Regions from separate parts of the Homo sapiens genome. Here region 2 is linked to region 1. The links come from fine-mapping of genetic effects on gene expression. A gene starts in region 1. The other region holds a variant in brackets. All regions are shown on one strand. Distances are between the middles of the regions.

What was found.
Region 2: its variant is fine-mapped to the expression of MMP11 in whole blood (TOPMed, PIP above 0.99).

Annotation. Positions count from the first base shown.
Region 1 is chr22:23,767,985-23,777,958 of GRCh38, reverse strand. MMP11 (matrix metallopeptidase 11) reads right to left here and starts at 5,110. Exons shown (of 8, transcript NM_005940.5): 1 at 4,981-5,110. The coding sequence starts at 5,088. It overlaps LOC107985577 (a long non-coding RNA gene), which reads right to left and starts at 9,733. Exons shown (of 3, transcript XR_007068022.1): 1 at 9,166-9,733; 2 at 6,652-6,772; 3 at 5,582-6,090.
Region 2 is chr22:23,838,502-23,850,528 of GRCh38, reverse strand. DERL3 (derlin 3) reads left to right here and starts at 11,523. Exons shown (of 7, transcript NM_001002862.3): 1 at 11,523-11,634; 2 at 11,753-11,818; 3 at 11,892-11,965. The coding sequence starts at 11,542. RefSeq lists enhancers at 482-1,237, 1,238-1,993, 1,994-2,751, 5,654-6,147, 7,762-8,319 and a silencer at 11,298-11,600. The variant A/G (reference allele first, on the strand shown) is at 5,893.

The sequences.
Region 1 (9,974 bases):
CGCTCCCTGCTCCTGATCCCAGAGCTGAGGCATCAAGAACACCCCACCATGAAGGGGGGCCTTCTGAACACGGAGGCTATGGAACTACTTAGGGCGTGAGGCCCTGAAGCAGCTTCCCCCCATTTCCGAGCTTGCTTATTGCATGGTTACCTGGCACAGCGCAGTCTCACTGGGTTGTGGGTTCTGGCCGATTCTGGGCTTATTGGTTTTTTGTTTTGTTTTTTTGAGATGGAGTCTCACTCTGTTGCCCAGGCTGGAGTGCAGTGGCGCGATCTCGGCTCACTACAACCTCCACCTCCCGGGTTCAAGCAATTCTCTGCCTCAGCCTCCCGAGTAGCTGGGGTTACAGGTGCCTGCCACCACGCCTGGTTAATTTTTTTTTTTTTTTTTTTGAGAGAGAGTCTCGCTCTATCGCCCAGGCTGGAGTGCAGTGGTGTGATCTGGGCTCACTACAACCACCGCCTTCCGGGTTCATGCCATGCTCCTGACTCAGCCTCCTGAGTAGCTGGGACTGCAGGCACTTGCTGCCATGCCCGGCTAATTTTTTTGTATTTTTAGTAGAAACGGGATTTCACCATGTTACCAGGATGGTCTCGATCTCCTGACCTTGTGATCCGCCTGCCTCGGCCTCCCAAAGTGCTGGGATTACAAGCATGCGCCACCGCACCCAGCCTCACGCCTGGCTAATTTTTGTATTTTTAGTAGAGATGAGGTTTATCCATCTTGGCCAGGCTGGTCTTGAACTCCTGACCTCATGATCCACCTGCCTCGGCCTCCCAAAGTACTGGGATTACAGGCGTGAGCCACCGCGCCCGGCCTGGGCTTATTGTTAATAAGTACTTAGCACTGGTTGGCCGGGCCTGGTGGCTCACGCCTGTAATCCCAGCACTTTGGGAGGCCGAGGCAGGCGGATCATGAGGTCAGGAGATCGAGACCATCCTGGCTAACACGGTGAAACCCCGTCTCTACTAAAAATACAAAAAATTAGCCAGGCGTGGTGGCGGGCTCCTGTAGTCCCAGCTATTCGGGAGGCTGAGGCAGGAGAATGGCGTGAACCTGGGAGGCAGAGCTTGCAGTGAGCCGAGATCGTGCCACAGCACTCCAGCCTGGGTGACAGAGCGAGACTCCATCTCAAAAAAAAAAAAAAAAGTACTTAGCACTGGTTGCAGGCTAGGACCTTGGCAACAGCTCCACAGACTTGCTCTTAGCCCCTGATGGAACCTCTCACCAACTCCACCATCATCACCCTCATTTCCAGGATGAGGAAATGGGCCCCAGAGGAGTTAAGCAGCTTGATCAGACAACAGCTGGCAGGCAGCGGACTGTCTGTGCTCACAGCCCACCCAGCTCCCTGCTACCTCTGCTCTGCTCTGCAGGGGTTGAGTTACCCTTCCCCTGAAGGAGGGACCCAGGCTGGCCTCACCTTGGTGAGGTGCAAATTATTCAGCGCCTGCTATTTCCCGGGCATTTTGCAGGCAGGTTCGTTGGGCTTCCAATATCCACCAGGCAGGTGGAGATGCTACATATCCAAGTTCTCCCATGGAGGATGTGGGCTGCCAGAGGGGCCTGCCTCCTCCTCCTCGCCACACTGCCCCCTTGACTTACAGGAGAAACAGATTCCTTTCCCCAGCCTGGCAGGGGTATGAAGACCCTCCCTGGAAAGGGCAGAGCTGTGCTCTCCCCTGGGAGCTCCAAACAACCCAGAGCCCAGCCTGCCAGCCCTGCTATGCCCATGGTCAGAAATCTCTTCTCTCCTCTGCCCTCTAGTGAGTCCTGGTGCAGACAGTCATGGAGGGAGAGCCACGGGCATGCCCCCACCCCTTCCACTGTCCCTTCCTGTCCTTCCCTCATGAGGCACCCAGTCCATGCCCAAACCCCTGGATCATGACAGTCTTAGTGTCACAAAAAGAGCCAGCCACTGAGGTTCAGAAGGCCTAGTTCTATGACATGGAGACTCTAGACAAGTCACCTTCCTCTCTTAGCCTCAACTTTCCTATCTGTCAAATGGGAATGATGCCACAGCAAAGGGCTACATGACATCCTTCTGTAATGCCTGCTGTAGCCTCTGGCACAGAAAAGCACCTCTTACCTGGCCCTGTTCCTTGTCCCTGTAGGCCCTCCCCTCCCACGCTTGGGAATCTGCCCTTGCCAGTCCCTACAGTTCCCATCACCCACCGCCCCTCTAGCTACCCAACAAAATCTTCAGGCTTTAAATGGTAAAACAGAAGTTGCAGCTAGAAGGGAGCTTTCAGGCCTAGAAAAGAGAAGCGCCTTGTGCAGGGTCTCCCACATATCAAGGTCTCTTCTCCCTGTCCCTGTCTTGTTCATTAAATTCTTAGAAACTGAGTGAGCAGGAGATGCTAGAAATGAGGCCTCTAGCTAGTGAGGTTGTTTTTAGAGCCCATTATTTTTTTAGAGCCCATGAGCTCTTGGCCTCAGTTTCCCCATGGCTGGGATAGGACACACATTCTGCCTCACTGTCCTCCCACACTTCATCTTTCCAAGTCCTTTCTGGCCTGGGGCCAGATGCCCTAACTACAAGGCACGGCATGAAGCAGCTTGCTACTTGTGAGACAGGTGGGCTTGGCCTTCCCAGGACTCTCAGGATTCAGTGAGGTGAGGTGGTAGACACAGGCCACCACTGGCCTCATCTACACCCCTGGGGAGCTTGAGGAAGAAGCAGCTCCCCCATTTCCCAGAGGATGAGACAGAGCCCAGAGAGCTCAAGGACTTTGCCCGGGGTCACACAGCAAGTCATGCAAGAGCTGGACCTAGACCTGGGGCTCATGCCTCCCACCTCCAGGGCTTCCCCCTGTCTCCCCAGCTCTTGGCTTTTCTCCAAAACCCACTTTCCCAAGAAGCATTTCTGCTTCCAGTGCATTCCCTCTGTCTTGGCCAGTAGCCTCCCTTGGCCTGCCCTGTGGTGGGTTCTTAGCTCACTCAGCCCCACCCTCTTCTGCCAGACACCAAACCTCAGCTGCAGACACATTCAAGGAATTTCTCAGCTGACCCAGTGTCCTGGCAGAGCTTAGAGACTCGGAGTCAACCCCGCCCTGGGGTCAACTTGCAATCCAGAAAATGGGAGGCACCAGATAGAGGGGAGATAAGGGAGGACCCCAGGGTGCCAGGAAACACTGCGAAAGGCTGGGCTCATTGTGCCCCTTTCTGGGCCTCAGTTTGCAGTTGGTCTAGTGGGTATAATTAATCATAGCTATGCCTTCTGATGTCGGTGGGAGGCAAGACTTCGAGGAGGGCACTTGTTAGGCTATGGAGGAAGACGGGAGCATCACCATGCAGGCTCAGAGAGGTCAAGCAACCTGCCCAACTCACACAGCCAGGTGGCAAGCAGGGATATCTTCTCCCTCAAGCTTCCACCTAATCTTCCTATTCTCACCCCTCTGCTGCTGGCTCCAGGAGGGACGGTAGCTTCGTCCCATCCATCGGACTGCAGGGCTTCCATCAACCCTGAAAGCTGGGAACTGGGCTGGATAAATATTTACAGAGCTCTCCCAGCCTTGCTGAAGGCAGCCGGGGGATAAACACATCAGAGGTGACCCCACATGCTCCCTGCGTGTTTGCAGAGTGACAGACCACAGTCCAGCTCAGACCCCACCCCAAGCTGGCCCCCAGCTCCAGCACTGACCATGCACAAGCGTCAAAGTGGCAGCTACAGGTGACAGTGTTTCTAGTGAGCCTGGCATCACCTCATTGCTCAACAGTGGACACAGCAGTAGGCACCATTGCCCCCTCCCACCTGCACTCCCATTAGAGATGGAGTGGGTGAGATTCTGAGGCATGGCAGGATTCACCCAGGGTCACATGGTTCAAACCCAGATCTCTCCAATTTCCAGACCTGTGGTTCAATGTCTACCCACAGTGATTCCTGACTCTGTCCCAAGTCCTAGGAACCAAGAGGGGCTGGGAAGGAGGCAAGACTCCAGACTGAGATGCCCCCCATTCACTCTACCCCACCCATCCCATCCCTTTCTGCTCCCATAGCCAGCACAGGACAAGGCTGCCCTGAGCAGAGCCAGAGTGGCTGGACAGAGGGTCCCAGCCTGGCCAGGCCTGCCTCCTCACCAGGCCAGTCCTGAGACTCCTGCCTGTCACACCCTCCTGCTCCCTTCCCTGCCCGAGCTGTCTGGATGCCTCCGCTGTGGAGTGGAGTGGCCCAGGCTCTGGCCCCAGGCCCTGTGACTGGTGCCTGGAAGCGCCCCAGGGAAGGGGCAGCTTTTGGGACACATGCAAGCTGTCACACACACTCCATGACAGTCCCTCCTCTCCTCACTCTGCTGTCCTCTCTTACCTGGGCTTTCTTCTCCTCTCCTGAGCACACATTTTCTCCCTTTCCTTTCTCTCCCCGCTTCTTTCTGACAGCCACCTCTCAGTCACACACACACTGCACTCATACTATTTCATACTCATGTTCTCCTGGCTCCAAGCCTCCCAAAACTGCTGCCGGCAGGTGCCCGCGGGGGACATCTCCAGGCTTAGACCCCATTTCCCGCAGCACAGCGCTGCCCTCCCTTCTCCCTTTATCCTTCATCCCACCGCACACCTGGAGGTGTACTAACTGCGGCCACACACCTGCAGGCTGACACCTGCCTGGGATCTGCTCGGCTTTGTCCCTGCGATGAATAGGGGGCCCTGTTACCACTCCCTCTGCTGCTTCCTTCAACGCACACTCCAGCACCCGCGGCTGGAGCGCGAGAGGCAGGTCCCCACGCTGGGAGCAAGCGTGAGTCCAGCGTGGAGTCCCGTCCCACCAGCCCGAACGATGCCGGCGCCGGCTCCCCTTCACACCCCCAGGGACTGCAAGCTCGCTGTCTATCACGCCTAGAGGGAACCAGAAAGCGTTTCGGGTACCGGGCGCTGGAGGCCACCCGGGGCGCCCCCTTCGGTCCGGATCCGCCGCTGGGCCCAGCCCGCGTGCCCGGCGCCCCCTCAGCGAGGAGCGGCCGGCGAGTGGCGGGCACTCACCGGCGGCAGAGCCCGGGCCAGCAGCGGCGGCGGCTGGAGCAGCAGCAGCAGCATCGGGGGCAGGAGGGCGCGCGCGGCCGCGCTGCGGAGCCAGGCGGCCGGAGCCATCCGCCCCGGGGCTGCTGGGCTTGCTGGGCCGCTCCGGGCCGCCGCCCCTTATAGCTTCCGCCCCACCCCCGGCCCGCCTCGGCCCCGCCCCCCGCCGCCTTTTGTTCTGAACTCTCCTAGCAGCCGCGGCCCGGGTGGGGGAGGTGAACGGGGAGGGTACGGCCCAGCGGGGTCGAGGGCCGGAGACAGGGTCCTGCCCCGGGGCTGGCAAAGTCCCTATCTGGTGCTGGGTGACCCTGGCCAACCCGTGCCGCTCTGGGTCTCAGTTTCTCCTCTGGGTGGTGGCCGTCCAAAGTCTTAGACTTGGCTAGAGTCTGAGAGGAGTCAGGTTTCATGGGTCCCATCCGTACCCCCACCTTTGGAAGGCGCATCCCACTGGGTCTCCTTGGTGGCCTGACCTCTGACCTCTGACAGGTGGTCCTACCCACAAGCAAGTTCCCCCACCCCTCAGAGCCTCAACGGATCCTTCTAGAAGATGACACAATAGCCCCTGTGAGGAAAGGGATATTATTTTATTTTTTATTATTATTATTTTTTGAGACACAGTCTCACTCTGTCTCCCAGGCAGGAGTGCAGTGGTGTGATCTCCACTCACTGCAACCTCCGCCTCCCAGGTTCAAACGATTCTGCTACCTCAGCCTCCCAAGTAGCTGGGACCACAGACGTGCGCCACCATGCCTGGCTAATTTTTGTATTTTTAGTAGAGATGGGGTTTCACCATGTTGGCCAGGCTGGTCTCGAACTCCTGACCTCAAGTGATCTGCCCACCTTGGCCTCCCAAAGTGCTGGGATTACATGGGGAAGCCATTGCACCTGGCCAGGAAAGGGATATTAAAATGTGTCCCAGGGGAAAGTGAGGCATATGGCAGGGACTGGCCAGTTCTTCAGCTTGGGATAGACCGAAGTTTACAGATAGGGAAACTGAGGCTCCAAGAGGGAGGGTCCAGGCTTTTCCACACCAGCAGACAAGTGGAGGGGTCAGGAGGTCCTCTAGCTGGTCAGCTGTGGGAAGGATGCTGTCAGAAGGCTGTGGGAGGTGTCTGAGTGGAGTACTGGGCCCCCAGGGTGTCCCCTCGTCAGTGCCCAACAAGCCCCTGGGGACCCCTCCAGGCTAGCCACCTCAGACTTGAAAGAAAGGAGGCGAGAGGCCGGGCGCAGTGGCTCATGCCTGTAATCCCAGCACTTTGGGAGGCCGAGGCAGGTGGATCACGAGGTCAGGAGTTGGAGAGCAGCCTGACCAACATGGTGAAACCCTGTCTCTACTAAAAATACAAAAATTAGCCAGGTGTGGTGGCACACACCTGTAAGCCCAGCTACTCAGGAGGCTGAAGCAGGAGAATCACTTGAACCCGGGAGGCGGAGGTTGCAGTGAGCCGAGATTGTTCCATTGCACTCCAGCCTGGGTGACAGAGCGAGACTCCATCTCAAAAAAAAGAAGGAAAGGAGGTGAGACTCAAAGGAGGGGTTGTGTCCACATTCTGGAAGGGATCCTTCAGTCTCATCCCTGATTTTCGGGGTTACCCAGTACTGCTGTACACCCCCTGAAATGATGAAGGGCCTCACCACCTCACCAGGCGACCTGTTCCATCATGGGTGGCCCTGCAGAGCCACGATCCAGGCAGTGGCTCGCATCCTGGCAGGCAGGGCTCTGAGCTGCTCAAAGGTGAGGCTGTGGTCAGGAAGCCTGGGCCAAGAAAGGGAAGCGGGTGGGGAAATGTTTCACAGCTTATTCAAGAAGACTCCACAGAGACTCCTAGAGGGCGAGGAGAAGTAAGACAGCAGTAATTTTTACAACCTACACTGTTCGTAATCTTTTCTTTTTTTTTTTTTTTTTTTTGAGACGGAGTCTCTCTCTGTCGCCCAGGCTGGAGTGCAGTGACGCGATCTCGGCTCACTGCAAGCTCCGCCTCCCAGGTTCATGCCATTCTCCTGCCTCAGTCTCCCGAGTAGCTGGGACTACAGGCGCCCGCCACCATGCCCAGCTAATTTTTTATATTTTTAGTAGAGATGGGGTTTCACCGTGTTGGCCAGGCTGGTCTTGAACTCCTGACCTCAGGTGATCCACCCGCCTCGGCCTCCCAAAGTGCTGGGATTACAGGCGTGAGCCACCGCGCCTGAAAGGCAATCTTTTCTTTAAAGTCACTCACTTTTATTTACTTTTATTATTTTGAGACAGGGTCTTGCTCAATGGTGTGATCTTGGCTCACTGCAACCTCCGCCTTCCAGGCTCAAACGATCCTCCTGCCTCAGCCTCCCAAGTAGCTGGGACTACCGGTGTGCATCACTATGCCCTGCTAATTTTTGTATTTTTTGTAGAGACAGGGTTTCACCATGTTGGCCAGGCTGGTCTCGAACTCCTGGACTCAAGCAATCTGCCTGCCTGGGACTCACAAAGTTCTGGGATATAGACATGAGCCACTATTCCCCGCTAAAGTGACTCATTTTTAAAAAGTAGGCATTTCAGGCCAGGCGTGGTGGCTCATGCCTGTAATCCCAGCACTTTGGGAGGCTGAGGCAGGCGGATCACAAGAGACCATCCTGGCCAACATGGTGAAACCCTGTCTCTACTAAAAATACAAAAAAAAATTAGCTGGGCATGGTGGCACGTGCCTGTAGTCCCAGCTACTTGGGAAGCTGAAGCAGGAGAATCACTTGAACCCGGGAGGTGGAGGTTGCAGTAAGCTGAGATCACACCACCGCACTCCAGCCTGGCAACAGAGTGAGACTCTGTTTAAAAAAACAAAAACAAAAACAAAAAAACAACAAAAAACAAACAATTAGCGGGGCATGGTGGCATGTGCCTGTGGTCCCAGATACTCGGGAGGCTGAGGCAAGAGAATCGCTTGAACCCAGGAGGCAGAAGTTGCAGTGAGTGGAGATCATACCACTGCACTCCAGCCTGAGCGACAGAGCAAGACTCCGTTTCAAAAAAAAAAAAAAAAAAAAGTTGGCATTTCAATGCCTGCTTCAGTGTCATCCTTTCAGCCTCATTTTCATTTGTGTAACCCACTTAAGTGGTCTTGGGTGCCTCCGAGGTGCAAGGCCATGCTTTGTGGAACCTGCAGTCCATCAGCCATGGGAGCTGAAGTAACAACTCTCTGCAGTTTAGGCCCGGGGACCACCATGAGAAGTGTTCAGTTTGTTTGGTGTGGCAAACAGGAACCAGGTGGCATGGACTGCATGAACAAGGGAGTAGCGGCTGGACCAGGCCTGGTGAGTCTGCCAGGAAAGAATGGCCCACCCTTGGTGTGCTCACCTCACTGGGAGGCCACCCTCAAGGTGGGTGGTCACCCCCCTTCAGAGAGGAGAAACTGAAGACAGGGCGGGGAAGGGCCCTGTTCACAGGCTGGCTGAAAGGACTGCAGTGTGAGAGAACACAGGGCTGCACCTGACTTCCATGGAGAGCATGCATGGCTGGGGACAGCTGTGCACACACAGAATTGAGCATGCCAGGCAGGGCCAAACGCCCCAGCCACCACTCCCCTTGCCCCTTGACCTGCTCCTTCCTTATGGAGGGGCCTCCTCTCTTACTTGGTGACCCACACCCCCACTTCTGGGTGCTTTTGCTCTTGGTTGCACCCTGCCGACAATCCCGGTGTCAGGAGTCCTCTGCAGGCACAGCAGTGATGAGGGACAGTCCCTACCTTCCCCCACCTAGGAGTAATAATATGACCACTGCAAAGTCACCCAGAAAAGACCATAAAAACCTCAAGCTCAGCCGGGCGCGATGGCTCATGCTTGTAATCCCAGCACTTTGGGAGGCTGAGGTAGGAGGATCATGAGCTCAGGAGTTGGAGACCAGTTTGGCCAACATGGTGAAACCCCGTCTCTACTAAAAATACAAAAATTAGCCAGGTGTGGTGGCACGAGCCTGTAGTCCCAGCTACTCAGGAGGCTGAGGCAGGAGAATTGCTTGAATCCGGGAGGTGGAGGTTGCAGTGAGCCGAGATCGCCACTGCACTCCAACCTGGGCGACAGAGCAAGGCTCCGTGTCAAAAAAAAAAAAGTAAAAAGTAAAATTAAAACCTCAAGTTCTCGAAGAGCAGGAAAGCATTCTAAATCCGCGCTCCAGCTCACCTGGCCTGGAACGAAGCTGCTAAAATTGCGAGGCCGCAGGCTTCAAACTTGCGCTAGATTTGACCGAGCCGGGCAAATGCTCCTAGGCCTTTGGGATAGACACGCTGCTCGGATGTCGCGTAAAGGCCGTTAGTGTCGGGGGTTGCACTCGCGGGGCCAGGGACTAGGTGGGGGCGGTCGGGCCGGCCCGGGGAATCCGGTGGGGTTCAGGGCCGCGCGGGGGGCCTCATATCCCCCGCGGGCACTGCGTAAGGCTGCCAGCATTGGCAGCGCATTTTGGCCAACAGTCGAAGACGGGTTGGGACGCCCCCTCGTGGGAGTTCTGGGGATGGGTTGCTCCAGGCCTTCCCCAGGGCCGCGCTTCACTTCCCTAGGCCACCGGAGACTCCCAGGCCACGCGGTGGTCAGCAGACCCTGTCTGGAGGGAGGGGACAGACAGCCGAGTCCGGGAGGGGGCAGAGAGCGGAGTCCAGCCTGGAGCCTCGCGTCCCCTTCCCAGCTGGCCCCATCCCGTCGCCTCCCCGTCTCCTCTCCCCTCCAGGGCTCGCAACAACCCCCAACTCCGCTCCCTGCCCTCTGCGGTGGTCCTAACAGAAGGCACTGTCGCCCTCCTTAAGCCCTCGGCGCTTTGCGACACTGGCCCCTGTCCCCAGAACCCGCACAGCCTGCCAGGCGCAGGGAGGGAGCAGGGTCCCATTTCCAGCCGAGACCCGGAGCTGCTGGAAGGGAGATGTCCGGAGGACGGGAGAAGGGGGATAGGGTTGGGGGCAGTGCCGCCTCCCGCTGGGGGCGTGTTCCTGAGGCCCCGC
Region 2 (12,027 bases), 72 kb before region 1:
TGTAGCAGCCTGGTGCTCACATCCGTCCTGTGCAGTGCTAGGTGCAACCACCCATATGTGGATGTCAGCCTCATTTACGAGGGGAGTCCCTGAGGCTCTGTGAGGCCAAGCCGGTGCCCGCACCAGCCCTACAGCCCGGCTGGCAGAGCTGGTCTTCCTCACATTGCCAAGGGAGGAGCGCAGCTCAAACTAAAAACAATCAATACAGGCCGGGCGCGGTGGCTCCTGCCTGTTATCGCAGCACTGCGGAAGGCTGAGGCAGGCGGATCAACTGAGGTCTGCCTGGTGAAACCTCATCTCTACCAAAAATACAAAGATTAGCCGGGTGTGTGGTGGGCGCCTGTAATCTTAGCTACTGGGGAGGCTGAGGCAGGAGGCTTGCTTGAGCCGGGGAGGCAGAGGTTGCAGTGAGCCAAGATCGTGCCACTGAACTCCAGCGTGAGCGACAGAGCGAAACTCCGTCTCAAAAATAAATAAATAAATATTTAAAAATAAATAAATAAAAACAATCAATCCAGCGAAGCCCGCTGGTGATACTGACTCCCACCCGGCCCGTACCCCACCCGGGAGCCCACCGGCTCTTCCAGCGGGGTGCCTCCGTGTCCCTGAACTGTCTTAGAAAATGCCTGTTACCTGGGCCTAGGGAGGCAGGGCCCAGCGTTGGGGACATCCCAGGGATTCCGTCTCCTGGTGGAGACTTTCCCAGCCCTCGGGGAATGAATGGGCTCACCGCGCCCGGGTCCCGCCCCCGTTCAGCTTCTTCCCCGCAGGCTTTTCGGGATTTCCCCGACGCCGCCCAGACCGGCTCCGGCCGCGAGGGGGCGACAGAGCCCGGGCTCTGCGGAACCCAGCACCAGCGATTGCCGCCGACTCGCGAAGGTTCAGTGGTGGCGGTGACACAAAGGAGGCCTGCGCCCAGGCGCCGCTGGGTAGGGGGCACTTCATCTGGGGAGGCTCCCCTTTCTGCCTTGCCCTCCCTGCCCCTCAGCTCTTGGGCGCTCCAGTCCTGGCCGTTGTACCGAGTTGCAGCCTCCTGCCCTGCGCCACCCGCCCCGGTGCGATTTCACTTGCCCTGTCCTCACATCCAGCCGCGCGGGGCCGGGTGGGCCAGGACCCTGGGGAGCTGAGAAGCCTGACGCCAGTCCCATCCGGCCTCGGCCCGCCTGCGTGGCTCTCCTCTCTGCTCCATGCGGGGTGGGACAGGTGCCTCCTACCTGGAGCCAAGGCTCAGGCAGCAGCAGGCCCGGTCCATCCCTGGGGATGAGTGAGGGGTGCAGGGCACGGCTGACTGCGGGGACCTAGCGTTCCTGAGCACCTCACTGCTAGTGGGCTGAGCAGCTCTAGGCCAGCCTGTTGGCCTCTCTGAGCCTCGGTTTCCTCATCTGTCAGTGGGCTTGAGAGCGCTGTAGCACGGAGGACTGTAACACGGTTCAAGGCTACCCAGAGGCCATTCCTCCCTGCAGCCTTTCCTATTGCCCCCACGTGGGTGGGCATCTCTGTCCTACACCAGGGGCCTCCTGCGGGGGAGAGGGAGGAGGTCAGGAGGCCTGATGATCACTGAAGCCTCTGCCCCCGGGGTTCAAGCGATTCTCCTGCCTCAGCCTCCCGACTTGCTGGGATTACAGGCGTGAGCCAACATGCCCGGCTAATTTTTGTATTTTTAGTAGAGACGAGGTTTCACCATGTTGGCCAGGCTAGTCTCGAACTCCTGACCTCAGGTTATCTGCCCACCTTGGCCTCCCAAAGCACTGCGATTACACGCGAGAGCCACCGCGCCCAGCCAACACAGGGCCTTTTTTGATCCCGCAGTTGTCCCAGACAGACCCTAACCTCAGATGGGTGCACTGGGGGGCTGCAGCCTAGCTGGACAACCTCACTCAAGGTTGGCGACAGGGTGCAGGGGTGCAGACAGGCAGGTCCTGCAAACTACCCAAAGGCCTGCTTCTTCCTCCTCAGAGCTGGCATCCACTCCGGTTCTGGGTCTCATTTCCAGCGTAATGGCTCAAAGACAAAGAAAGAAAGAAAACAAGCCCCAACCCCACAACCAGCTGAGGCGGCCCCTCCTGGCCACCCTTTGATGTTTGAGGACTGAACAATGGGGCTGATTGCAGATGAGAGATTTGAAGCCATCTTAATTAGAAGGAAAGAATGTCCTCGTGGTCGGCTGTTCTAAAAATACAGCTGTGCCCACATCTGGAGGGAAAGGGTGGGGGCCTGGGAGGTGGGGACGGTGGTTAGGCCAGAGTCTGAAGCACTGATGCCTGCATTCCTTGGGGCGGAGGGGGCCTCTAAGCAGGGCCTCTTGGAAGGGGGTGGGGAGATGCCACAGCAGCCAGTCCGCTGTGGCTGGACCACCTTCTGCAGGTTTGGGATGCGCAAGCAGTGGGACAGGTGTGCCTTCCTGCGTCTGCCCTCACCAAGGAAGCCCTCCCCGTGCCGCAGCCTCGGTTTTCTCTTCTCTCCAACGGGGCAACCAAATTGGTCATTTGTTTGCATTTCAAATACTCACTTTGCGACCTAATCTTGCATTTGTTTTGCATTTTTTTTTTTTTTTGAGACAGAGTTTCACTCTTGTTGCCCAGGCTGGAGTGCAATGGCACGATCTCAGCTCACTGCAACCTCCGCCACCTGTGTTCAAGCAATTCTCCCGCCTCAGCCTCCCGAGTAGCTGGGATTATTACAGGAGCCTGCCACCACACCCCACTAATTTTCGTAATTTTTGTATTTTTAGTACAGATAGGGTTTCGCCGTGTTGGCCAGGCTGGTCTTGAACTACTGACCTCAGGTGATCCGCCCACCTCGGCCTCCCAAAGTGTTGGGATTACAGGCATGAGCCACCGCGCCCGGCTGTTTTGCATTCATTTTCTTAAAGAGGCCCCCCAGTCTCATGAAAGTGAAGGGCATTGGAGGGCTGGGTGAGTGTTTGGAGGAGGACGTGGAGGCAGGGGCCCTGGTGGTGTCACTGTGAAAGGATGGGTCACCTGGGTTGTCATCTCAGCCCACCGTTAGGAGCCTCCCATCCCAGCGGCTGGACAATCACCTGGCACGGGGAGCATGCCCCTCACTCATGGGAGCAGGGCCTGGCTGCTTGGTGGGGCTATCAGTGGATGCAAGCCAGTGGAGGTGGGGTGAACCAAGGCCTTTCTTTCTTTTTTTTTTTTTGAGACGGAGTTTCGCTCTTGTTGTCCAGGCTGGAGTCCAGTGGCACGATCTCAGCTCACCGCAACCTCCGCCTCCCGTGTTCAAGCGATTCTCCTGCCTCAGCCCCCCAAAGAGTTGGAACTACAGGCATGCACCACCATGCCCAGCTAATTTTGTATTTTTAGTAGAGACGGGTTTCTCCATGTTAGTCAGGTTGCTCTAGAACTCCCGACCTCAGGTGATCTGTCAGCCTCAGCCTCCCAAAGTGCTGGGATTACAGGCGTGAGCCACCGCACCTGGCTGAACCCAGGCCTTTCTGAACCTCTCCTTCCACCAGACCCATGGCTCTGAGTCACTAGTCCTGGGCAAGGCCTTCCAGAGTGGTGGCCCCAGTCCCTAAAGATTAGTTTTGTTTTCGTAGAGATGGAGTGTCACGCTGTTGCCCAGGCTGGCCTCGAACTCCCGGGCTCAAGCAATCCTCCTGCCTCCGCTGGGACTACAGCCACACGCCACTCCGCCAGGCTTTTTCGAAGTCAAAGACAGAGCTGTCTCAGGTTTTGTCTCTGTGAACTCATATCCCTGGCCCTGCCATATGGCTGACTCTGCCAAACAGATAATCTGCTTCTCCCCCTACACCGCCCACAGTGCTGAGCTTGAAAATAGCTGAGGCAGGGGAGGGGGAAGCCCCCACCAGATGCTCTGGAGCTCTGGGGTGCTTGGCCGGAGGTGGCTTTGACATTCTGGCAGCGGCCACAGCAGGAAGTGGGAATTCCTGGCAATTGCTCTGGGTCATGACAGTCAGGACACAGGCTCAGGCAGGTCCCGCAGCTGAGGGCTGAATGGAGACAGTTTCATCAGCCATGAAGGGTCAGAGACAGTAAAACGAGGCCCAGACAGCAGGGAGGCAGCTCAGGAGTGGAGTCTCATGTTGGAGACGCTCCCTGGGAGCCCAGAGGCTGCAAAAAGTTCTCACCTCCAAACCGGAGCTGGAAAAGGGTCTGGGGCTGCACAGCATTAGCTGGTTGGTGATGTCCCTCACTCCCCTGTGCCCCAGTGATGGGGTCAGGGATAGCTCACTTCCTCCGCATGGGTCCCTTCCATCACCCGTTATGGTGGCAAAGCCAGGACTGCTGATTTTGTGCCTCTTTAGCTGTGTGTCCTCAGGCAGTTTACTGAACCTCTCTGAGCCTATTTTCTCATCCGTAATAGTAACCTACTTCATCAGGTGGTGATGAGGGTTCGGTGAGTTTAATAAAAGCCATGGTGCAGTCTGGCTATAGATCACTGAGCAGCTATTATCTCCCGCACTTCACAGGTCCTTGCCTAGTCCATGAGCAGCACACGGGCCCATTCCTGCCTCCCCACTTTTGCTTAAGCCTTTGTCCCTGCCTAGCACATCCCCTCCTCCTCCTGTCCTCATCAGGAGCTCTCCTGCCCCACGGCTGCCCTGGACCACTCACCAGTGCATTTCCACTCCCTGCTTGGTATGGGATTCAGTGTCTCCTCCCCTGGCCAGAAGCTGAGCTCCTGCAGGAAAAAGGCACCCACAGCGACTCCCTCCCCAGCCCTGCAGGCCTCTCTGGCTGTTCCTGACCATAGGCCCATGAAGGCTCCTGGCTGAGAGGAGACAGCGAGGAACAGATCCGGCAGAGAGGACTGGCAGGGGCCCTCCAGCTTCCTCTGTTGGTGCATTCTTGCTCATAAGCATTCACTTATTCATAGCAGAGATGGGCCTTGGATGGGGAGGCCAGCTGTGTTTGTTACAGGAAGGGGCTTCCACCCAGAAATCTCTGATACCCCCATTATAGATCAGAGTACAACCTTGGAGCTGAAAGAGACTCTACACATGGACCCTTCTGACCCGCATCTCACAGAGAGGGACACAGAGCCAGAGAGGGAAGGGAGTGCTCAGGTCACAATGCCAGCCCCGAGGCTGCATTTCCAGCCCTGGAGTCCAGGTCTCTGTCTTCACAAGTTTCCCTGTTTTTCCCTGTTTACCAAGCCCCTGCCTGTGCCAGCTCCGCAGCAGAAACCAGGCCTAGAGGGGCCATTGTGTGGACAACTGCAGCCCTTCTGCATGAAGCAGGAATGACCAGGGCCACGGAAGGGAAGGAGCTGGGAGGACTGGGCTAGAGGCCAGGGAGGGCTTCCACCCCACAGCACCCCAAGCTCACCTGCCTGACTCAACGAGTGGTCTCCCTCCCTTACTGGCCATTCACCCATGTCTCCACCCAGTGGGGGCTCACTGTCCCCCAAGCTGGGTAGGCCAGGACCCCTCCTACCTTCACCCCCACTACCAAGCATTCACTAAGGCCTGTGGCTTCAGCCATCCTAACCCTTCCACTCCCTCGCTGTTAATGCAAGCCACTGCAGGCCACCGCTCTCCTCCCCGGCTCATCTGATTAGGACAGAGACCACGGCCGACACACCTCTGCCTGGCCTGGCCCCGCTTCTCCCTCCCGTCACAAGCAACTCTTCTTCCTTGCCTCCTTCACCTTCTCTCCTCTGCTCCCTTCCTCTCCCCCAGTTACCTCAGGGCCTTTGCACAGGCCCTTCCCCTATCCTGGCCTAGCTAGTGCAACCCATCCTCTGCCCCATTCTGCTTCCTCCCTCCCCATCCCACCCAGAGACCAGCTTATTCCTGGAAAGTCCAGATTCTGCTACCAGGTTCAGAGGGCCAGGCCCAGGCCGCTCCCTCTGCAGCCTGACACAACCCACCTGGATGGTTTGTTGTTCTTGCGCTCCGGCCAC[A/G]AGCAGCTGCTGCTATGTGGGTTCCGGATTCAGTGCTAAAAATAGCCTGTGGCCCAGACAGGAAGGGCCAAGGGGGACACAGCTGTTTCTGGGAGGGGCTAGCTGGAAGCCTACTCACAGCAATTGCAGGGGTCCCTGTGCTCAAAGGGGGTGGGCCCCGTGCTCAAAGAGGGGAGAGGTCCCCCAATGGACAAGTGCTCAGGGCCCAAAAGGCACTATGTGTCATCAAGAAGAAAATACAGCTGCACCAGCAGGTACACAAACGTTCAGTTTGTTTGATTCTTGTGGTTAGTTACAACAGGCATGGACTGCCTTTAGAATAAAATATATTTAAAAATTAAGTGCTCAGGACTCTAACAGAAGTAGGTGAGCTCTGGTCCCTTTGAAGGTGACCAGGGAGGGCTTCCTGGAGTAGGAGGCACTTTCACCCTCTGCTCTTCCTCTCTTATTTTTTTAATTTTATTTATTTTGCTTTTAAGAAACATATTTATTTTATTATTTTATTATTTTTGAGACAGAGTCTTGTTCTGTCGCCCAGGCTGGAGTGCAGTGGCACGATCTTGGCTCACCGCAACATCCGCCCCCGGGGTTCAGGTGATTCTCGTGCCTCAGCCTCCTGAGTAGCTGGGATTACAGGTGCATACCACCTTGCTTGGCTAATTTTTGTATCTTTAATAGAGACAGGGTTTCACCATGTTGGCCAGGCTGGTCTCCAACTCCTGACCTCAGGTGATCCACCGGCCTTGGCCTCCCAGGGTTCTGAGATTACAGGCATGAGCCAATGTGCCCAGCCAGGAAACATTTTTTAAAAAATATTTTTAAGAGTCGGGGTCTCACTCTGTCACCCAGGCTGGAGTGCAGTGGTGCAATCTCTGCTCACTGCAGCCTTGACCTCCCAGGCTCAAGCGATCCTCCAGCCTCAGCCCCCTGGCTCTCTCCCCCTTCCCACTTGGGGCTACAGGCATGCACCAGCACGTCTGGCTAATTTCTGTATTTTTTGTAGAGATGGGGTTTCTGTATGTTGCCCAGGCTGGTGTTGAACTCCTGAGCTCAGGCAATCCGCCTTCCTCAGCCTCCCAAAGTGCTAGGACTACAGGCGTGAGCCGCCACACCCAGCCTTACTCTTTTTTTTTTTTTTTTTTTTAACAGAATGAATAGTTCAGAGAGCTGGGACAATATTAGAGGAGAGAACCTGAGGCCTGAATAAGAGTTAGTGGTGGTGGTAAGGCATAGGAGAGAAGGGAAAGGACTAGAGAGTTCCATGGGAGCATCAAGTGTGACATAGGGGGCCGGGCGTGGTGGCTCACGCCTGTAATCCCAGCACTTTGGGAGTCCAAGGGAGGATTGCTTGAGGACAGGGGTTTGCGACCAGTCTAAGCAACACAGTGAGACGCCATCTCTACAAAAAAATTAAAAAATTAGCGGGGCATGGTGGCATATGCCTGTTGTCCCAGCTACTTGGGAGGTTGAGGTGGGAGGATCACTTGAGCCCAAGAGGTTGAGGCTGCAGTGAGCTGTGATCACGCCACTACTCTCCAGTCTGGGCAACAGAGCAAGACCCTGTCTCTAGGAAAAAAAAAAAAAAGTGCAACATGGGGCTGAGGGTATAGAGCTGACTCCAGGCTTGGGGGCTGAGGATGGCCCCTCCTAGTGTGTGAGGCCAGTGAGGGGGAAAGCTGGGTGGGGAGAGTATGCAGAGGGCGCTATCCTGCCTACAGACACTGAGAGGGCCTGGACAGGAGATCTAGGTGTCCTCTGGGAGTCAGCAGGAAGCGTCACAATGCCAGGGAGGTGGCATGGGGAGCAGAGCCCATTGTCACCTTGCCGAGGAACCACAGGTCTCCACCCACCCACCATCCTCAGCACAGGAGAAAGAAGGCTGGCCCAGCCGACAGGTCTGCCACCCTGATGTTAGGGTAAGGCACACCCTGCATCTCTAGGACCCTGGGAACTTGGGATGCCCAGGGCTTCCCTCTATAAAGAATTATCTGGAGGGGCTCAAGGGTCCAAGGAGAAGTGGACCTAGTATTTCCAGAGTGGCCTGTTCTGGGCCTCAGACTGGACAAGAAAGAATGGAGGTCTGCCCCAGGCCCTGTTCTGCATCCTTACGTGCCTCAGTTCCCCCATCTGAGGATATCCCGGGGCTCCGGAAAGGGAGCCTCTGCAGTGGACCCAGCTGCTGTTCCCTGGATGTCCTCCCTCCCAGCCCTGGCTGGCCTCCCCCACCCGCCCCAGGCTCCTGGCCTCCCAGGAATGTGCTTCTCAGCCCCCAATCTGGGCGCCTGCCTTATCGGCCCCCAGTCGAAGGGGAGACAGACGCCCCTGTCGACAATGACATCCCCTCCTGTTAGCCCCAGCCTGACCCTGAGTTGAGGGCCGGCCAGCGCCTGCTAAGTGCCTGGAGGAGGAATATCTCCCCTTCCCCACGCTGACATGAAACCCGACCTCCTGCACCGGCTCCTTTGTGCCCACCGGGCGCCCGCCCAGGCGTCAGAGGCCCTGGGTCCCCGCCCTGCTGCACACTGTGGCTGCCAGGGTGGGATTTGCTCTGCCTGGCATGCTTCCAACATGACCTTAGCCTGCTTTGCTGGAAAACCAAGGTTGTCTGCGGGGGTCCGCTCACCCTGCTCCCAGCCCCCAACCCCTCAGTGTCTTGGTCCAACCCCTGCTGTATGAGGCCAGACCTTCTCCTCACATCCCTCCAGCAAATGCACTTCCCTCCAGCACTCCAGGCTCTCCCCGTCCCCTCCAGAGCAGGGAGGAAGGCTCCTGAACCCACTGTCATTAGGCACTGGTCTCACCCCACTCCCCAGGGAACCCCTCTCAGGGCCCTTGTGGGACCCTCACGCTCTTGGGATCCACCTGAGAGCCTTCTCAGCCAGTTCTCCCTCTTGGCCAGTTCCAGTCTCCTCGGGGGACCTCAGGGCCCTGTCCAGAGCATCCCTCGTTTTCCACACTTCCCTCCAAGGCTGCACTCCCCTTGTTTGTTAAGGCACATCCATTTGTGTGCCTTCCTCTCCCTCCTGCCTGCCATTATCCTGGTTACCAGGAACCTTGGCATGGCTGCAATTCACAGTCCCTTCCCGGGCCACGTCTCCCTGGATTCTCACTGCCTGGCTCCTGAAGCCCTTTCCTGGCTCAGCCTCCCTTGGCCTCCCCAGCTGGGGCTGCCTTCCCTCCCTGGCTACTGCAGGTCAGGCTACCCAGGCCTGGCCTCTTTTCTCCATCAACCCTTGCCCCTTGAGCATCTCACACACGCCCAAAGCTACAAATACCATTGATCTACTACTGGATGACGGCACCCACATTTAGACTGTCTGCTCCAACCCCTACCCCAACACCACACTCAGATTTTTCCAAGTGATGTCACACAGATGCCTCAAATTCGATGAGTCCAGAACAGGACCCTCTATGCCCCTCACCTTCTCCCCACGAGCCCTCCATCTCAACAAAGACCACCACCATCCAACCACTCTGCGGCTCAGGCCTCTGAATCCACTTGGACTCCCCTCTCAGCCCTGTCCCGTCTGTAGGCAAACCCATATCCCACCCCTCCTTGTCCTCCAGGTTCCACCTCCCAGCCCCGAAAGTAATCACTGTCCCTTAAGGATTCCCCCTGCTCAAGGATTCCTCTGGCAGTCCACTACCCTGACAGCAAACACAGAGGTTTGTTGTTTTTTTTTAAATTTTAGTAACATATACACAACATAAAATTTGTCCAAACTATTTTCAAGTGTTCAGTTCAGTGGTATTAAACATTCTTATGCAACCCTCCCCACCATCCATCTCCAGAACTTTTTCATTTTCCCAAACTGGAACTGCACTCATTAAACAATAACTCCCTGATCCCCTCTCATATAAGTGGAACCATACAGTATTTGTCTTTTTGTGACTGGTTTTTTTTTTTTTGAGACGGAGTCTCACTCTGTTGCCCAGGCTGGAGTGCAGTGGTGCAATCTCGGCTCACCACAACCTCCATCTCCCGGATTCAAGCAATTCTCCTGCCTCAGCCTCCCGAATAGCCAGGATTACAGGTGCCCGCCACCACGCCCAGCTAATTTTTGTATTTTTAGTAGAGACGAGGTTTCACCATGTTGGCCAGGCTGGTCTCGAACTCCTGACCTCAGGTGATCCACCCGCCTCGGCCTCCCAAAGTGCTGGGATTACAGGTGTGAGCCACTGCGCCCAGCCTTGTGACTGGTTTATGTTACTGGGTGTAATGTCTTCAAGGGTCATCCATGCTGCATCATGTATCCGAATTTCATTCCTTTAAGGTTGAATGGTATTGCATTGCATGTAGACAGCACATTTCGTCTGTCTCATCGGTGGGTGAACTGATGTGAACCATTGTGAATAATGGGGCCATGAACATGGGTGTATGAACATCTGTTCAAGTCCCTGCTTTTGATTCTTTTGAATGTGTACCCACAAGCAGCATTGCTGGATCATACGGTAATTCTATTTTTAATTTTTTGAGTCATGATCATATTGTTTTTCACAGCGGATGCACCATTTTATATTCCCACCAACGGTGCCCAAGGGTTCCAATTTCCCCATATCCTCGCCAACACTTATTTTGTTTTATTGTTTTGCTTTTCACAGTTACCATCCTGATGGACACAGGGATGCTTGCAAAGTGACAAACTTTAGAGGTATCCCAGGTCACCCCACCTGGCACTGCGGACGCCCACGTGGCCCCACCCCTCACTTGGCAATATTCTCATCAAGTGTCAGCACTAGCTTATTGTATTGACTGCCTCCTGGCTGGACTCTAAGAGACAGTGTCTTTTATTGCATGCTACATCCCCAACATCTAGAACAGTGTCAGGCAAACAGTTGTTTAATAAACGGTGGAAGGAAGGAAGGGAGGGAGGGAGGGAGGGAAGGAGGGAAGGAAGGTGGGTAGGTTGGTTTCTATTTTCCACCAAAATATTGAGGACCTCTCCTGCCTGTCCACTTGCTCTGGTGCGCCTCTCAACCCTCGCGCCCCACCTGGACTCAATCCCGCAGTCCTGCCTCTCCTTCCTTGGGCCCCCGGGGAAGAACCCCGACAGCGGCCGGCACATTTGAGTGGGGCCCTGGACGTTTGGGGAGGTTTGGACACATTCCCGAATGCCTCCCTGCTGTGGGTTAGGTGGGCCTGTCTTGGGCTGGCAGCGAGGACAACGTTGTGGCTAGGTCGTCAGTTAGTGAGCCAGCACGGTCTGAGCCGCCACACTCCGCGCCCCGCCCACGCGCCCCGCCCTTTCCAGTTTTGCCTCGCCTGCTCGGGTCTTCGCTCCTGTAACCCATACGATCTTAGCCCCGCCCCCGTGGTGTCGTGGGTCCACGCTACTGGTCCTCTCCTAGAAAGCCGCGAAATGACCAGTTCCTCATTGGCCACACGTTCTCCCGCGCCACCACCGCAGCCACAACAACCGCCACGTGCTCAACCTTGGCGCCTGCCCATTGGCCACCAGCCTCTACCCGCCCACTCTCCCTTTCCGCCCCTAATTTCCCTCTTCTTCCTTCCATTGGCTGTCGGGCTCAGGGGCTCTCTTTTCAGCCTGGGGCGCGCAGCGCCTCGGATGCGGATTGGCCGAAGGCGGGGCTGGGAGGCGGGTTAAAGAGCGCGTTGCTGGCTGGGCCACGCGTGCTTGAGAAGGTTCAATGGCGTGGCAGGGACTAGCGGCCGAGTTCCTGCAGGTGCCGGCGGTGACGCGGGCTTACACCGCAGCCTGTGTCCTCACCACCGCCGCGGTGGTAAGCGGCCGGGCGGACCGGACGTCGCCTTGGTTACAGCCTCTGGCGGGAGGGGTGAGGGTCGCCATGGTTACGGCGTGGCTCCCGGGCAGCTCTTGACTGGCCCCTGGTTCCACAGCAGCTGGAGCTCCTCAGCCCCTTTCAACTCTACTTCAACCCGCACCTTGTGTTCCGGAAGTTCCAGGTGAGGCCGCCCCGCGCCGCGCACCTGTGGGCCCGACCCACCCACCCCGCACCTGACCGCCCGTCCCCCGTAGGTCTGGAGGCTCGTCACCAACTTCCTCTTCTTCGGGCCCCTGGGATTCAGCTTCTTCTTCAACATGCTCTTCGTGTATCCTGCGCCCTGCGGACACGGGCTGGGTGGAGGGCAGGCCGGCCGGGCTGGGAGAGAGG